2 separate regions of the Homo sapiens genome follow, and region 1 is linked to region 2. The links come from fine-mapping of genetic effects on gene expression. Tissue or cell type: whole blood. Region 2 holds a variant in brackets; the other region holds the start of a gene. All regions are shown on one strand. Distances are between the middles of the regions.

Evidence for each region. PIP is the estimated chance that this variant, and not a neighbour inherited with it, causes the effect.
Region 1: it holds the start of DMXL2, and the variant in region 2 is fine-mapped to the expression of DMXL2 in whole blood (TOPMed, PIP 0.95).

Annotation. Positions count from the first base shown.
Region 1 is chr15:51,617,940-51,626,046 of GRCh38, reverse strand. It overlaps DMXL2 (Dmx like 2), which reads left to right and starts at 3,276. Exons shown (of 44, transcript NM_001378457.1): 1 at 3,276-3,588. The coding sequence starts at 3,502. LOC105370816 (a long non-coding RNA gene) reads left to right here. Exons shown (of 5, transcript XR_932236.3): 4 at 761-872; 5 at 1,222-1,363. RefSeq lists a silencer at 3,139-3,358 and an enhancer at 3,729-4,138.
Region 2 is chr15:51,527,559-51,535,665 of GRCh38, reverse strand. It overlaps DMXL2 (Dmx like 2), which reads left to right. Exons shown (of 44, transcript NM_001378457.1): 13 at 1-3. Among named protein-coding and RNA genes, the nearest start is that of DMXL2, 91 kb to the left of the region's middle. The variant C/T (reference allele first, on the strand shown) is at 3,303.

The DNA of each region.
Region 1 (8,107 bases), 90 kb before region 2:
GCTCTGGGATTACAGGCGTGAACCACTGCGCCTGGCTGCCCCTTGACTCTTGAAGATAAAGTCCTTGAGTTCCGTGGTGTAGTGGACAACCTCCAAAATGGCTGCTCACGACTCTCCCTTCCTGGCACTCACTTTCTTGGGAAATAGTCTCCCACACTAAGTTATAGCTGGCCTGTGCACCCAATAAAATATGGTGGAAATGATGGCGTGTGACTTCTAAGGCTAGTTTATAAAAGACATTGCAGTTTCTACCTTGGTCTCTCTCTTGGATCACTTGCTGCTGGAGCAGTCAGCCGCCGTGTCTTGAGGACACTCACACAGCACTATGGAGAGGAACACATAGGAACTGAGGCCTCCATCTATCTATTAGGCTCAACTTGCTAGCCATGAGAGCCTGCCATCTTGGAAGCAGGGCCTTTAACTTCAGTCAAGACTTCAGATGACTGTATCCCTGGCTATTTCTTTTTTAGATAGCTTTATTGAAAGTATAATTTAATTACCATACAATTCACTAATTTCAAGTATACAATTCAATGATTTCTAGTAATTTTACAGAACTGCCCAACCATGACCACAATCTAATTTTAGAATGTTTATCTCATGCCAAAAAGAAACCTCATATCCATTAGCAGTCACTCTCAGTTCCACCTTCAGCCCCAGGCAACCACTAACCTATTTTCTGTGACTGTAGATTTGTCTTTTCAGAAAATTTCATACAAATGATTTCATACAAACGAATTATGTGGTCTTTTGTGTCCAGCTTCTTTTATTTAGCATGTAGCTGACATTTTGATTGCCATCTCATGAAAGACTCTGAACCAGAACTTTCCTGCTAAGCTACTACTAAATTATTGATTCACAGAAACTGTGAGGTAATGAATCTCTACTGTTATTTTTGGCTGATAAATTTTGGGGTAATTTATTGCACAGTAATTGATAACTAGTACACATCGGTAGGTGATACTGCTGGGAAACTAAGTCCCACATTTAATGGCACACATTCAATGGGCCATTAAACCCAACCCCAAAGGTACTATTAAGAGTTGTGTTGGGATCTCAAATCAAAGCAAAAAGAAAAAAAAAAGAGTTGTGGACATGATAAATTATATCTTACAATTCGATTAGCATATTTTGTTAATGATACAAAACTGCTACTTTTTCTAATTTTTAAAAGAAAGCCCTTTCCAAAATTAGAAGAAAGAATTTCCAATTTGTTTTTAGGTCCATGAAAAAATTTGCATGAACAAGGAAGAGATGAAATTGTGGACAGTCAAAAGTGTGGTCTAGCTGCCCTGGTGGGCTACCAAGGAAACTTGCCATATTAGTCTGGAGTGAGTTTTGACTGATCAGATTGGACAATAAAAGGCTCAGCTGTAATTCCAGGAGACTTAATTAGTCATTTGCAACCTTAAGATACAGCTATCAAGAAGCCATTTAAAGGATTCATGAGGGAAGAGAACAGGTGGATACAGGCTTCAGATTTTGAGTTTGATACCGAGAGGAAGAAAGAGGCTCACAACTTCACAACTGTGTGAATGGGCCAAAACTTCATGGAATGCTGTAAAACAAGAGCCAAATGTGAAATGGTTTAAATAATGTGAATTAGTAACACTCTTGGAAACCTGAGTACAATTTGTTGTTTGATGATAGTTTTGACTTGGTTTCTAATGCAGTGAAGGTCAAAGATTAAGAGACTCATCTAGAATCTAGTAGTAACAAAAAGGAACCCTTGGATATGGCGCGGGGGAAGGGAGGAAGGGGGGGGGAGGGAAGGGGAGGGAGGGGGGAGAGAGAGAAAGAGAGAGAATGCCGCAGGTCATTAGGTATTATTTTTCATTCCTCCTGCAACTTTCTACTGAAAAGATTACCAACGACTGACAGATCTTTGCCTCCAATCTTCCCCACCCTTCCCTTTATGCTTCAAAATGCTACAAAGTCATCTTCCCAAAGCAGCTCTGATTATATAAATTTTTGCTCAGAAACATCTGATATACCCCCACTGCATGCAGAGTGAAATCTGGGCTTCTTGGAGCATTCAAGACTCTCCATAATATGTTTTGGTAGGCCAAGAGTTAGACCACTTGGATACCTTGATCTCTTGCTAAGTATTATTTACTTTCCCTACCCTATAAATCATCTGCCTCAAACATTAATCTTTGTACCTTCAACACCCCCTCTATTTTCTGTACTGTATTTGCAGCATTTCTTGTCTATCTCAGCCTGTCAAAATTAAACTCAGCGTTTATGTCAGGTTATGTCTCCATAATGCCTTATCCACGCCCTTAGTCAACATTCTTCTTCCTCTTCTGTGGTGCATAAAGACTTTTATATCTCAATCACACCACCTTTGGCGTTCTGCCTGGTTTTACAGATAGTTATGTCTTGGTGTCCCCTACTTCCTTACCCTGTGATTTAAGCATAGTATGGGTTAGAACATTTGCCATGAATTGGCCTGTGGCAGGGAGCTGATGATCCTTGTTATCAACCATTCAAAGTTTAGCAGATAGTTTGGAAAATCAGGCGATTCTGCTAATTCATGAAATTACTCATGAAAAAAAGTCGAAAGGAGTCACCCGTCTCTAAGGCGGCTTTTTGCTGTCTAGAATAACCGTGACAAAAGGTGGGAGCAAAATAATTAGCTTTCAGGGGAGTATGGCTTCTCTAAATAGTTGCAAGATGCCTACATTGTTTATGTAAAATAAAATATCTTATGTACTGCACTTTCGAAAAGACTGAAGATATCTAAGATATCTCCAGGTGGAAATTCCCGGTGACGGGTGTCCTTCTGAGGTCAACGGCACTGACCATTGCACACTGTATTCTGGAATACGTTCAACACAGCAAAACCGGCTCGTGGCGCGTCCCCGGCGTCCGACTGCTGCGTGGCCCCGAGCGACCTGCACCCCACTCGCCCCCGCCCCCACCTCCGCCCCAGTCCGCAGCGGCTACAGCCCGGGAGGCTCCAAGGGAACTCCCGCACGTCTGCGCGCGCAATCACGGGACGGCGGGTCGGCGTGGCGCGCGCAATTGCCCTGGAAACCACGGCGCGCGCACGCGCAAACGCGGGTGATGGGGGGAAGAAAGACTGAGCTGAGAGCTTTGCCGCGGGGGGAGGGCTCTACCTCGCTCCCCCGCGGTGGGCGCGCGCGCTGGCCCGCTCCCTTGCTGCACGCTCCCGGCTCGCGCGTTCCCCCCGGTGCCCTCCCCCGCCTCACAAGCACCCTTGCCCTCCCGCATTTGTGCGCCGGTGCAGCAGGCAGTGGGAACATCCGGGCATTTCCGCAGCTGAGCGGCGACCCGGGCGGCGGCGGCGGTCGAGGAGCTCCCATGGCAGGGACGAGGCGGAGGGAAGGCGAAAGGGGGGCGAGGAGTTAAGCCAGAGCCTCCGCGGGGCGGGTTTCCGAGGGAGGCACAGAGGGAAACGGCTCTCGCAGCCCGAGGAGGGTCAGGCGCGGAGCTTGTCGCACCTCCCGCGCATTCTGTCCAGCCCGGGCTCCGGAGATGCATCTGCATCAGGTCCTCACCGGAGCTGTCAACCCTGGAGACAACTGCTACTCCGTGGGCAGCGTCGGGGATGTCCCCTTCACGGTGAGCGGCGGCCGGGAGCCCTAGGGGAAGATACCAGGGGCCAGACGCGGGGGCAGGGACCTCCTGTCCAGGGCGCACGCCTCCTCAGGAGGCTGTGAGATGTTGGTGGGCCCCACCCGTGGCCCCTTTGCAGCCTTGGGGTTTAGTTCCCCCTGGGACCCGTGGGACCGTGGGTCCTGCGTCTGGTGTAGGAAATCACCCGTTAGGGGAAAGGCTTAGGAATCCACCGCACTCTCCACCCCAAGCAAACGGGCCTGAGGTGACTGGACTAGAAGGCTCCTCCTAGGGCGGCCCTTCGGTCTGCGGTGGAGGAAAGTGGTGGTGCGGCTGAAACCCCAGAGCGTCCGTTTCGCAGCTGCTCTCGGCGTGGAGGCGAAGAGACTTGGTGTTGGTCTCGGAGCGTGGAGGTGAAGAGACTTGGTGTTGGTCTCGGAGCGTGGAGGCGATGCTGCGCCTTGGCTCCCCCTGCCCGCTGTGCTAGGGCAGCGAGGAGCTGCTGGAGTCTGTGGCTTTAAGCCTGACTCTGTATCTCCTGATAATGCAGGATCTTAATTCCAACAAAAAGATAGAAAAATTCATCCTCCGCGCCCGAAAGATTTAGAATGGAAAGGTTAGAGTCACAGTGGCTTGGAGAGCTGTCTCATTTATCAGGAGGTCGTAGTTTGGTAATCCTCCTAGATAATATTTTAATCTGTAAGGTAGCCTTTTTTTTAATATAGTAAGGCAATGTGAAAAATTTACAACAGTGCTTGTTTGAGAAAAGTGTATGTATACATAACGTTTTAGAATCTCCTTAAAAGCTAGATGAAGTAGACATGTTTCTCAAGGAGATTGGACTCATCAGTCCTTTTTGAGAGTGGAAATGTTTAAACCAAGCCTTGGAGCTTCGTTTACTCATAGATAGACTCCCATAAATTGAGTTCTTTTTTAAAGAATGAAATTTATACATGGTCTTCCTTATAAGGAACTGTAGGCAGCCAGACCTTTATTAAATATATTTTGTAAACTGTTCTTCTTGATAAAACTGGAAATTCCGTAATGGTATGCTTTTTAGACAAGGAAAACCCTTTGATGTCTGCTTTCCAACAGTGTTTTTAAAACTGCGGAAAATAAAGCTTCAGCAAAACTGCAGAATCATTATGTAGCAGTGCATTCTGGAACAGAATTTATTTTTTGACGTTTTGTGATACATTAACCCCAGAAGATTGCTTTTTAGCCATTTTAATTTTTTAGTGTAATCCACTTGGCCTAGCTCCAGTTTAGAACGACCCCTTTTGTCATCTGTGTTTTATGTACATGTGACTTAAAATATTCATATAGAGCTGAGCTTTGTCTTCAAGTGTGTGGAGAATCTTGGTTTTTGGGGATAGAGAGAAGAAATTTCCCTGTTCCCCAGTAGTGCAGATAGGAAGTTCCTCAGGGTTAGAAGAGTGGGCCTCTTTCATCAAGAAACAAAGCTGGAATCTTTGGTTATATTTTCCTGCTAGAATGGTGGTGGTAGTTTTCTGCTTCCATCTAAAGTGGAGTGCTGTCTCACGGCAGGTCTGGTATGTAGAACTAAATAAACGGGTTCAGATGCAGCCTGGAAAAGCCTGTGTAAGAACTGTTAGTGCTGTGCAGGTGTGGTTATGCTGTAGGCCACTTGTGACCAGATGCTTAGAGTCATTTTCAAATCTTCTTGCACTTCCCTAATTCAGCGTTTCACGAAGTCTAGTTGACTCTGCACTGTCTACCAGATTTACTCCTTTTCATATCCTTAACCACCACCTTATTTTACAATCTTATTGGTATTAATATAAAAGCTTTCAAAACTGTCATGTCCGATAACTTCTTCATCCTCCACACCGCTGCTAGGATAATTTTCTTCAAGTGTCATTTTACTATATTACTCTTGGCTTAAGAATATGTAATTGTTTTTAATAGCTGTGTTAGGAAATGTAAACTTGTCAAGTATTCTCCATCTTTGACTTTATTTTTAATTATATGTACTCCTCACTTTGGCCCCTCTGTTACATACTGATCTTCTTACTCTAAACTGCATTTTTATGTTGCAACAAGACAGTCCTTTTGGGTTTCCAAATTCGACTCAAAATTTACGTGGTTTAGGATGCCTGCCTGTGACACTGTTATTTTGGTCTTTTGACAAATGTAAATACAAACCCATTTTGCACACCATCTCATTTAACTACCTTAGTTTTGAGCGCACTGATCCAGTTTTAATTTTGCCATGAACTAGAAATGATCTCTTGGGCTTTGTGAAAAACAGATTGAAAAACAAAACAAAACAAAACAAAAAACAAGCTGCTTTCAAGCAGTCTATATATAATCAACTAACAAATACTTAAGTTCCTATGTTTGTAAATATAGGAATAATAAATAGTAATAATAGTAAAATAAAATAAAGTAATATAATAGTAAAAATAAAAAGCAAGCTCCTCTTCATGGAGCCTGTCACTTGATTTTAGAGCAATCAGATGAAGAAACTTTAGTTCTGGATCAGATGATTAAAAGGGGGACCAGCCAGGACTTGGAATGAAGGTCTTGTGACTTCTCATTGTGTGGGCTTTTCTTGGTAGTATTTCCTTCTTAATATCAGAGTGCCTGCTCTGGAGAGGGTGTGTGGGTGCGTAGGTGGGTTAGTGGATGGATGGAAGGCCTCCCAGACATAGTGTAGAAGGAACTACTGTCTTGCAACTAACTCATGATTCTTAGCTGATGTTGTGTTTCATGGTAGCCTGAGAACCTTTTCAAAATACAATACATACTTTATTTCAGAGTCTAAAATTGATACATCTTTGAAGAACAGAATTGTTCTAAAAGGATTTTGAGTTTATGACAGTGTAATAATTGAAAGAAATGTGTGTTATATATTTTGCTGTGCATGGTGGGTGGCGTGATTGGTTGGCTGTGAATGACTACTTGATGTCGTGATGTCCCAATTTGTGCAATATTGACATGGTACTGCAGTCTGTAGTGGACAATCTCAGCTGATGTCTGTGGTTTTAGTGGTATCACGTAAGCTATGATGCTTTTCACTTGTGTTTAGGCAGTATACAGCTGTTTCCTTAAACATTCGATTGTGATTTCGTAAATGTAGCTGTAGATATCACATTTTAAAACATCACCTTTTGAACAATTTTGTTCTTTTCAGTGTAAGATCTAGGTTTTCGAAATGTTATCCTGCAATAAGTCAAATCTCTGGTAGTTCAAAGAGATGATCTTCTCCCGTGTATGAGCTTTATTATACTTTATTTTGCCTTTAAGACATTTCTTACTACCCTTCAGTGAATGTTTTGAGGGTTTATGCAACAGATATTGTAAATTTCTCATTATTTATGTTATTACTTTTCTGAAAGATAGTCCTTGGCTATTTTTTAAACTTTACTGCACATATTAAAATATTAATTGAAATAATGATCATACGTGATGATTTTTTAAATTAAAAATTCATTTGGCCTTAAGGCTTGCAGACTATTTTGAGATGTATAGGGGCAGTTACTATTATTCCAGTGTGACATGATTTCAACACATTGATCAAAGTTTACAAAAATTAGTAAGTCATTTGCACTCTTAGGGAATTTATAATATACTGGCAGAGATTAAAATGATTTATATAATTATAACATAAGGCAGATGGAAGAGATTGTAGTTGGGAAAACAAGAAGAGGTTTTATGGAAGAGTAAGGTTTGGAAAGATAAGAACAACAGAAGCAAAGGAATGGCATAATACGAAGGATAAATTATTGAGTGACTGTTTTCTTTGCAAAAGTTACTTTTTAATCACAGGACTTCTTCATTAAATAACAGACACTCTTAGAATGTTGAAAAAATATAATATGCAAACATTACCTGTAGCTTTTCAGGAAAACGTACCTGGTATTCTGACATTCAATTTTTTTTTTAAATTAAAATACCAACAAAAGGTTGGAAATAAATGGAAAACCATTCATTTAAAAATTAGAAAATAATGTTGTATAACCTCTTTTATGGCATTTAGATATGTCTTAACTCTATTGTAGAATAAAATTTCAGTCCTAGAGTTATGGTAACACCAAACCTTGAAAATGATCAACCAGTTTATACATTTAGCAAATGTTGAACACATAGGTGTGCTAAGCTTTGTGGGTATTAAAAAAAAAAAAAAAGAATTACAAGACATAGTCTTGATTTCAGGGAGTTTATTGAAGAAGTGTAGGAACCTGGTAGTCTAATACGAGAGTAAAAGACACATACCTAACCACAGTAGGCCAGCTGTGCAATATTACCAGCATTTAAGTGGGAATTCAGGAAGACTAAGAGAACTTTTGGCCAGGGGAATCAAGGGGTTGGTTAGAAACATGCTTCTGTACTGGCTGGTTATTAATGTGTTAACCTGTGCTGAGAGGAAAGTGAAAGACAGAAGTCAAGAATTTAGAATGGACTTGTTTTCTAAGAGAAATTGGCCTTTTTGTTCTTGGAGTGTAGCTTCTTGTTTGTTTAAACGGATACATTTAAAACCTTGTGGGCTTGGGCTTAGTGT
Region 2 (8,107 bases):
TCAGTAAGTATTTAATAATCTTTATTAATTTATCTAAGGAGATAAAGAATTCTCTTTTGACTTTGTCTAGGACCTGTGTTTGTTAGTTGCTGTTTAGGGAGTAAGTATATGTTCTGGGCTGCATATGACATATATATGACACATTTATTTTTTCCTAAGCTGTGTTCCAAGGTACATGAATCAAAATTTTAGTGTACATACCACACATTAATACATTTTACATGAAAAGAAATAAAAAGGATTTTTTTCTAAAATATTATTTGTTTGTAACATATTTTACTCTCTAGTTTGGTTCTGTTAGTCTTACTTTGCTTAAAAGAAGTTTTAAGGCATCTTTACCAAGCTGTATGTTTAGGTTGGAAAATTGGAACTTTTTCAAGCTTGATTCACCATTTTAAAAAATTCTCTGGTTAGAATTTGTTATCAGTGGGTGGCAGCATCTCATTCTGATAGTTCTGTATCTGAGCTGGAAGTCATATATGTTAGTATCTAGAGTTGAACAGTAGATTTTCCATTTACCTATAAAAACAACTATTCTAATAAAAATGTTTCCAGTATTGAAAACCAATGACTATTTTTGAGCATCTACTATGTTCTCCTAGATGTAGAGGGAATACAAAATATAAGTTTCAGACCTACCTTTAAGGAGCTTTTAATTTAGCTGAAGAGAGAGCTTATTAATAAAAAGTTAAGTAGCAGTTTAAGACATAAGAAGAGGAGTCTAAGGGTGGTATGTAATTAATTGCCAAAAGGATGGCCCTAGAAGTGTTTCATTATTCAGAGGAGAGAGAGAGATCAGATTAAGGTAGGCATAGAATTCTTTATTAAGGACAATATTTGGGTTCATTCTTGATGAGTGGATAAGATTTAGAAAGATAAATTCTTTGTCTTTGCCTGAGTGAGAAAATTGCCTGGAAGTAAGTATAGATACAGGAAAGTACATGTGTAAAGCTTGTTCCAGAAACAGTGAGAAAACCATTTGGATTGGAGCTTAAGGTTTGACATAGAGAAAGTCTAGAAAAATAGAATCATAGAACTAGAATTGGAAGATATTTTAAAGGTCACCTGGTCTCACCAGCCATCTGATGCTTTATTCCCCTCTGCTTCATTCCTGCCAATTTGTCATCTGGCCATCGATGAGGGAGACTCAACTCTAAATGCAGCTCATTCTATCCTTGAATAGCTCACACAATCATATTGAAACGCTATTTGTTTTGTGTACATTCTACTTGCTAGTGCTAGTTCTACTTAGAATAAATCTAATATTTCTTGCGTATGAGAGTACCTCAAGATATTAAAAGACAGCTTTCTTGTAACCTGTGAACCTTACTACCTCAGGCCAAATCTGCTCCCCCTGTGCCTATCAAGTTTCTTTATCTGTTTTACATTTGACCCTGGTTACTCTTCTGAGCAGTTTTCAGTTTGTCTGTACTCTGAGCCTTGTAGGATGACTAAAACATAGCAATATTGTGACCTCTCTCATTAGATACATTTATGTTTTGACAGTCACTCCACATTCTTCGTATGTAATTGACTCATCATGAGCTGACTGTCAATATCCCGAAGTCTTTCCCCCTCCCTGCTCTCTGCTAAACCTTGTCTTCTCCATTCTGTATTTGTACATTTGGATTTGGGGTCCAAATGTAGACCTATTTTTCCTATTACATTTCATCTTGCTAAGCACAACTAAACAGTCCAATCTCTCAGTATCTTTTTGAATCTGGATTATGTTATTTAATGTATTTGTTTTTGCTTTATGACTATGTCACCAGCCTGTTTGAAGAGTGTTATACCTGCACCATCTGAGTCAGTTATTAATATGATAAATAGGCAGGTCTGAAGAAAGAGCCTAGCAGTATACATTTGAAATCTTTCTCCATTTTCATTTTTTGGAATGTTTTCCAGCTTGTTTCAAGGATTTCTGTGAGACAGCTTGCCATATACTTTGCTGAAATAAAATACAGTCTTTCTATCTTCTGCAGTCAACGAAGAAAGTCAAAGTTACATGAGGTGATTTGTTTTAATATATGATAGGTGTAATGTGCACACCTTGACATCACTTGGTGACCAAAACATTGTACTAGGTAGACATTAAGCTCCTTGGTCTGCCCTGCAGAAGTATGTTCTTTTCCTTTTTGAAAATGGGAATTTTTGCCTGTTTTTAGTTTTTTGCTATTGATGTCATTCTCCATGATTTGGGGGATTTTGTGTTTTCTTATGGTTCTATTTGTTCTCCATTATACTCAGTGTTTTGTTTTTGGTGGTTCCTCAAGGTTTTATAATATGCATCTTTAACCTCTCATAGTCTACCTTCAAATAATAATATAGTACTCAAAATATAATGTAGCCAGGCACGGTGACTCACACCTGTAATCCAAGCACTTTGGGAATGAGATGGGAAGATTGCTTGACCCCATGAGTTCAAGACCAGCCTGGGCAACATAGTGAGACCCCCCCATCTCTAAATATATACAGTAAACAACTTTCAATAGTGTCCCCAATCTCCCTCTCCTGTGGTCTTCAGCATGCATGTCCTATGAATGTTTTGTTAGGTTTATACATAAGTATTTCATTTATTCTACTGACTGTAAAGGGTGCTGTCTTTTTAATGTTGGTGTCCATGTAGTTATGGCCAGAATATACAAATACAATTGAATATACAAATACAATTGAATTTTGTATGTTTATCTTATATCCTGTAACATTGCTGAATGCATATATTAGGTGTAGGAGTGTTTTTGGTAGATTTCTTGGACTTTTCCATGTAGATAATCATCTCATTATAAATGGGAACAATTTTATCTCTTCCTTTCTAATCTGTATGGCTTTTATTTTTCTTATTTTGTTGCAGTGACTAAAACTTCCAACTCCATGTTGAATAAGAAGTGAGATTGGATGTTCTTGCCTTCTTCCCATTTTTGGAGGAAAAGCATTCAGTCTTTGATCATTACATATAATGTTAGTTGCAGGTTTAAAAAATTTTTTTAAAATTTTTGTGGGTACATAGTAGATGTATATATTTGTGGGGTACATGAAATGTTTTGATATAGGCATGCAATTCTTAGTAATCAAATAATGGAAAATGGGGTATCTATCACCGCATACATTTATCCTTTGTGTTACAAATGATCTAATTACACTCTTCTAGTTATTTTTAAATGAGCAATTAAATTATTGACTATAGTCACCCTGTTGTGCTATCAAATACTAGGTCTTATTAATTCTAACTATTTTTTTGTACACATTAACCATCCCTACCTCCCTGCCAATCCCTTACGACCCCTCCTAGCCTCTGGTAATCA[C/T]CCTTCTACTCTATCTCTATGGGTCCAGTTGTTTTGATTTTTAGCTCCCATAAATAAGTGAGGACATGCAACGCTTGTATTTCTGTGCCTGGCTTATTTCACTTAAAATAACGACCTCCAGTTCCATCCTTGTTGCTGCAAAATGACGGAATCTCATTTTTTTTTTTGGCCAAGTAGTACTCTGTCGTATGTAAGTACCACATTTTTTTTTTCTTCATCCATTCATCTGTTGATGGATACTTAGGTTGCCTCCAAATCTTGGTTGTTTTGAACAGAGCTGCAACAAACATGGGAGTGCAGATACCTCTTCAGTATACCAATTTTCGTTCTTTTGGGTATGTGCCCAGCAGTGGAATTGCTGGATTGTATGGTAGGTCTATTTTAGCTTTGTGAGCAACCTCCATACTGTTCTCTATCATGGTTGTACTAATTTACATTCCCACCAATAGCATATGAGGGTTCCCTTTTCTCCACATCTATGCCAACATTTGTTATTGCCTGTCTTTTGGATATAAGCCATTTTAACTGGGGTGAGATGATATCTTATTGTAGTTTTGATTTGCATTTCTCTGATGATCTGTGATATTGGGCACCTTTTCATATGTCTGTTTGCCATTTGTATGTCTTCTTTTAAGAAATATCTGTTCAAATGTTTTGCCCATTTTTTGATCAGATTACTAGATTTTTTCCTGTAGAGTTGTTTGAGCTTCTTATATATTCTGGTTATTAATCCCGTTTCAGATGAGTAGTTTGAAGATATTTTCTCTCATTCTGTGGGTTGTCTCTTCACCTTGCTGATTGTATCCTATGCTTTTTAACTTGATGTGATCCCATTTGTGCATTTTTGCTTTGGTTTCCTGTCCTTGTCATATATTACTCAGGAAATGTTTGCTGAGACCAATGTCCTGGAAAGTTTCCCCAATGTTATCTTGTAGTAGTTTCATAGTTTGAGGTCTTAGATTTAAATCTTTAATCCATTTTGATTTGATTTTTGTATGCAGTTAATGATAGGGGTCTGGTTTTATTCTTCTGCATATGGATATCCAGTTTTCCTGGCACCATTTATTGAAGAGACTGTCTTTTCTCCATTGTATATTCTTGGCACCTTTGTCAAAAATGAGTTCACTGTAGGTGTGTGGATTTGTGTCTGGGTTCTCTTTTCTGTTCCATTGTTCTCTGTGTGTGTTTTTATGCCAGTACCATGCTGTTTTGATTACTGTAACTCTGCAGTATTATTTGAAGTCAGATAATATGATTTTTCCAGTTTTGTTCTTTTTGCTTAGGATAGCTTTGGCTATTCTGGGTCTTTTGTGGTTCCATATGAATTTTAAATCTTTAAAAAATTTCTATAAAGAATGTCAGTGGTGTTTTTATAGGGATTGCATTGAATCTGTAGATTGCTTGGGGTAGTGTGGACATTTTAACAATATCAGTTCTTCCAATCCATGAGCATGGAATATCTTTCCATTTTTTTTGTCCTCTTCAATTTCTTTCATCAGTGTTTTACAGTTTTCATTATAGAGATCTTTCACTTCTTTCATGAATTCCTAGGTTCTTAATATTATGTATGGCTATTGTAAATGAGATTACTTTTTGTTTGCTTGTTTGTTTTTGAGACGGAGTCTCTGTCACCCAGGCTGGAGTGCAGTGGTGTGATCTCAGCTCACTGCAACCGCTGCCTCCCAGGTTCAAGTGATTCTTCTGCCTCAGCCTCCAGAGTAGCTGGGACTACAGGCATGTGCCACCATGCCCGGCTAATTTTTTTTTTTTTTTTTTAGTAGAGATGGGGTTTCATTGTGTTAGCCAGGATGGTCTCGATCTCCTGACCTCGTGATCTGCTCGCCTCAGCCTCCCAAAGTGCTGGGATTACAGGGGTGAGCCACTGTGCCCAGCTGAGATTACTTTTTCAAAATTTCTTTTTCAGATTTTTTGCTGTTGGCCTATAGAAATGCTACTGGTATTTGTATGTTGATTGATATCCTGGAACTTTACTGAATTTATCAATTCTAATGGTTTTTGGTGGAGTCTTTAGGTGTTTCCAGATGTAAGATCATGCTTTCTGCCAACAAGGATAATTTGACTTCTTCCTTTCCAATTTGGATGCCTTTTATATCTTTCTTTTGTCTGATTGCCTGAGCTGGCACTTTCCGTACTACGTTGAATAACAGTGGTGAAAGTGAGCATCCTTATTGTGTTCTAGATCTTAGAGGAAAGGCTTTCAGTTTTTCCCCATTCGGCATGATACTAGGGTATAGAAGGTATGTTCCTTCTATACCCACTTTTTTTAGAGTTTTCATCATGAAGGGCTGTTGAATTTTATCATGCTTTTTTAGCATTAATTGATGCTAAAAAATTTTTGTCCTTCATTCTGTTGTCCTTCATTCTGTTGATGAAATGTATCACATTGATTGATTTGTATGTGTTGAACCATCCTTGTGTCCCTGTTATGATAAATGATCTTTTAATCATTTTAATCATATTGTTGAATTTACTTGGTAGTGTTTTGTTTAGGATTTTTGCATCAATATTCATCAGAGTTATTGACCTGTAGTGTTCTTTTTTTGATGTGTCTTTGTTTGGTTTTGGTGTCAAGGTAATACGGCCTCATAGAATGAGTTTGAAAGTATTCCTTCCTTCTCTATTTTTCAGAATAATTTTAGTGGGATTGGTATTCGTTCCTTTTTATATGTTTGGCAGCATTCAGCAGCAAAACCATTGGGTCCTGGGCTTTTCTTTACTTAGAGACTATTTATTATGGCTTTGATCTTGTTACTTGTTTTACTGATCTATTCAGGTTTTGGACTTCTTTTGTGGTTTAGTCTTGATAGGTTGTATGTGTCTAAGAATTTGTCCATTTCTTGTAGATTTTGCAATTTATTGGCATATAGTTGATCATAGTAGCCACTGTTGATCCTTTCAATTTCTTTGGCATCAGTTGTAGTATCCCTTTTTTCATCTCTGATTTTATTTATTTGGGTCTTTTCTTTCTTTTTCTTAGTCTGGGAAAAAACTTGTCAATTTTGTTTTATCTTTTCAAAAAATTAACTTTTTGTTTTATTAATCTTTGTATGATTTTCTTTGTTTCAATTTAATTTATGCTCTGATCTTTATTATTTCTTTTCCTTTACCAATTTTGGGTTTGGTATGCTCTTGCTTTTCTAGTTCTTTAAGAGTCATCGTTAGGTTGTTTATTTGAAGTCTTCCTTGTTTTTTGATGTAGGCACTTACAGCTATAAACTTCCCTCTTTTAGTACTGCTTTTGCAGTATCCCATAGATTTTGGTATGTCATGTTTTCATTATCATTTGTTTCAAGAAATTTTTCAATTTTCTTTTTAATTTCTTCATTGACTCACTTGTCATTCAGGAGCATATTGTTTAATTTCCATATGTTCGTATAGTTTCCAAAATTCCTTGTTATTGATTTCTAGTTTTATTCCAATGTGGTCAGAGAAGATGCTTGATATTATTTCATTTCTTAAAATGTTTTAAGACTTGTTTTGTGACCTAACGTATGGTCTGTCCTCGAGAATGATCCATGTGCTGAGGAAAAGAATGTATATTCTGTAGCTGTTGGATGAAATGTTCTGTAAATATCTATTGTTTTTGATAGTACAGATTAAGTCTGATGTTTCTTTGTTGATTTTCTGTCTAGAAGATATGTCCAATTCTGAGTGATGTCGAAGTCTCAAGCTATGATTTTATTGGGGTCTATCTCTTTCTGTAACTCTAATATTTGCTTGATATATCTGGGTGCCCCAGTGTTGGGTGCATATACATTTAAAATTGTTATATTCTCTTGCTGAATTGACCCCTTCAGCATTATATAGTGACCTTCTTTGTCTCTTCTTACAGTTTTTGTCTTGAAAACTATTTTGTCTGATACATAGTATCAGAAAATAATGATACTGATATCAGTATATCTGTCTGATATAAGTATAGCTATTCCTGCTCTTTTTTGGTTTCCATTGGCATGGAATATCTTTTCCCACCTCTTTATTTTCAGCCTGTGTGTGTCTTTATGTGTGAAGTGTGTTTTTTGCAGGCCACAGATTATTGAATTTTGTTTACCCATTCAGCCACTATATGTCTTTTGATTGGAGAATTTAGTCCATTTAGTCCAAGTAATTAGTAAGTAAGGACTTACTCCTGCCATTTTGTTATTTGTTTCTGGTTGTTTTGTGGTCTTCCTTCTTTATTTCCTTCCTGTGTTTCTTTTAGTGAAGTTGACTTTTGCTGGTGGTGTGATTTAGTTTTTTGCTTTTTATTTTTGGTGTATTCACTGTATGTTTTCTAATTTGAGGTTACCATGAAGCTTGCAAATATTACCTTACAACCCATTATTTTAAGCTAATTATGACTTAACACTGTTTGCATAAATAAACAAGCAAAAAGAAAACTAATAAAGGCTCTACTCCTTAACTTTGTCCTGCTACAACTTTTTGTTGTTACTATTTGTATCTTTTTGTACCATCTGTATCTTGAAAAGTTGTAATTATTATTTTTGATTGATTCATCATTTAGTCTTTCTACTTAAGATCAATTTACACACCACAGTTACAGTGTAATATTCTGTGTTTTTCTGTGTACTTACTATTACCAGTGAGTTTTGTACCTTCAGATGACTTCTTTTTTTTTTTTTTGGAGGCAGAATCTCGCTCTTTCACCCAGGGTGGAGTGCAGTGGCACCATCTCGGCTCACTGCAACCTCTGCCTCCTGGGTGCAAGCAATTATCCTGCCTCAGCCTCCCGAGTAGCTCACTCGCACACTGCCACGCCCAGCTAATTTTTTGTATTTTAGTAGAGA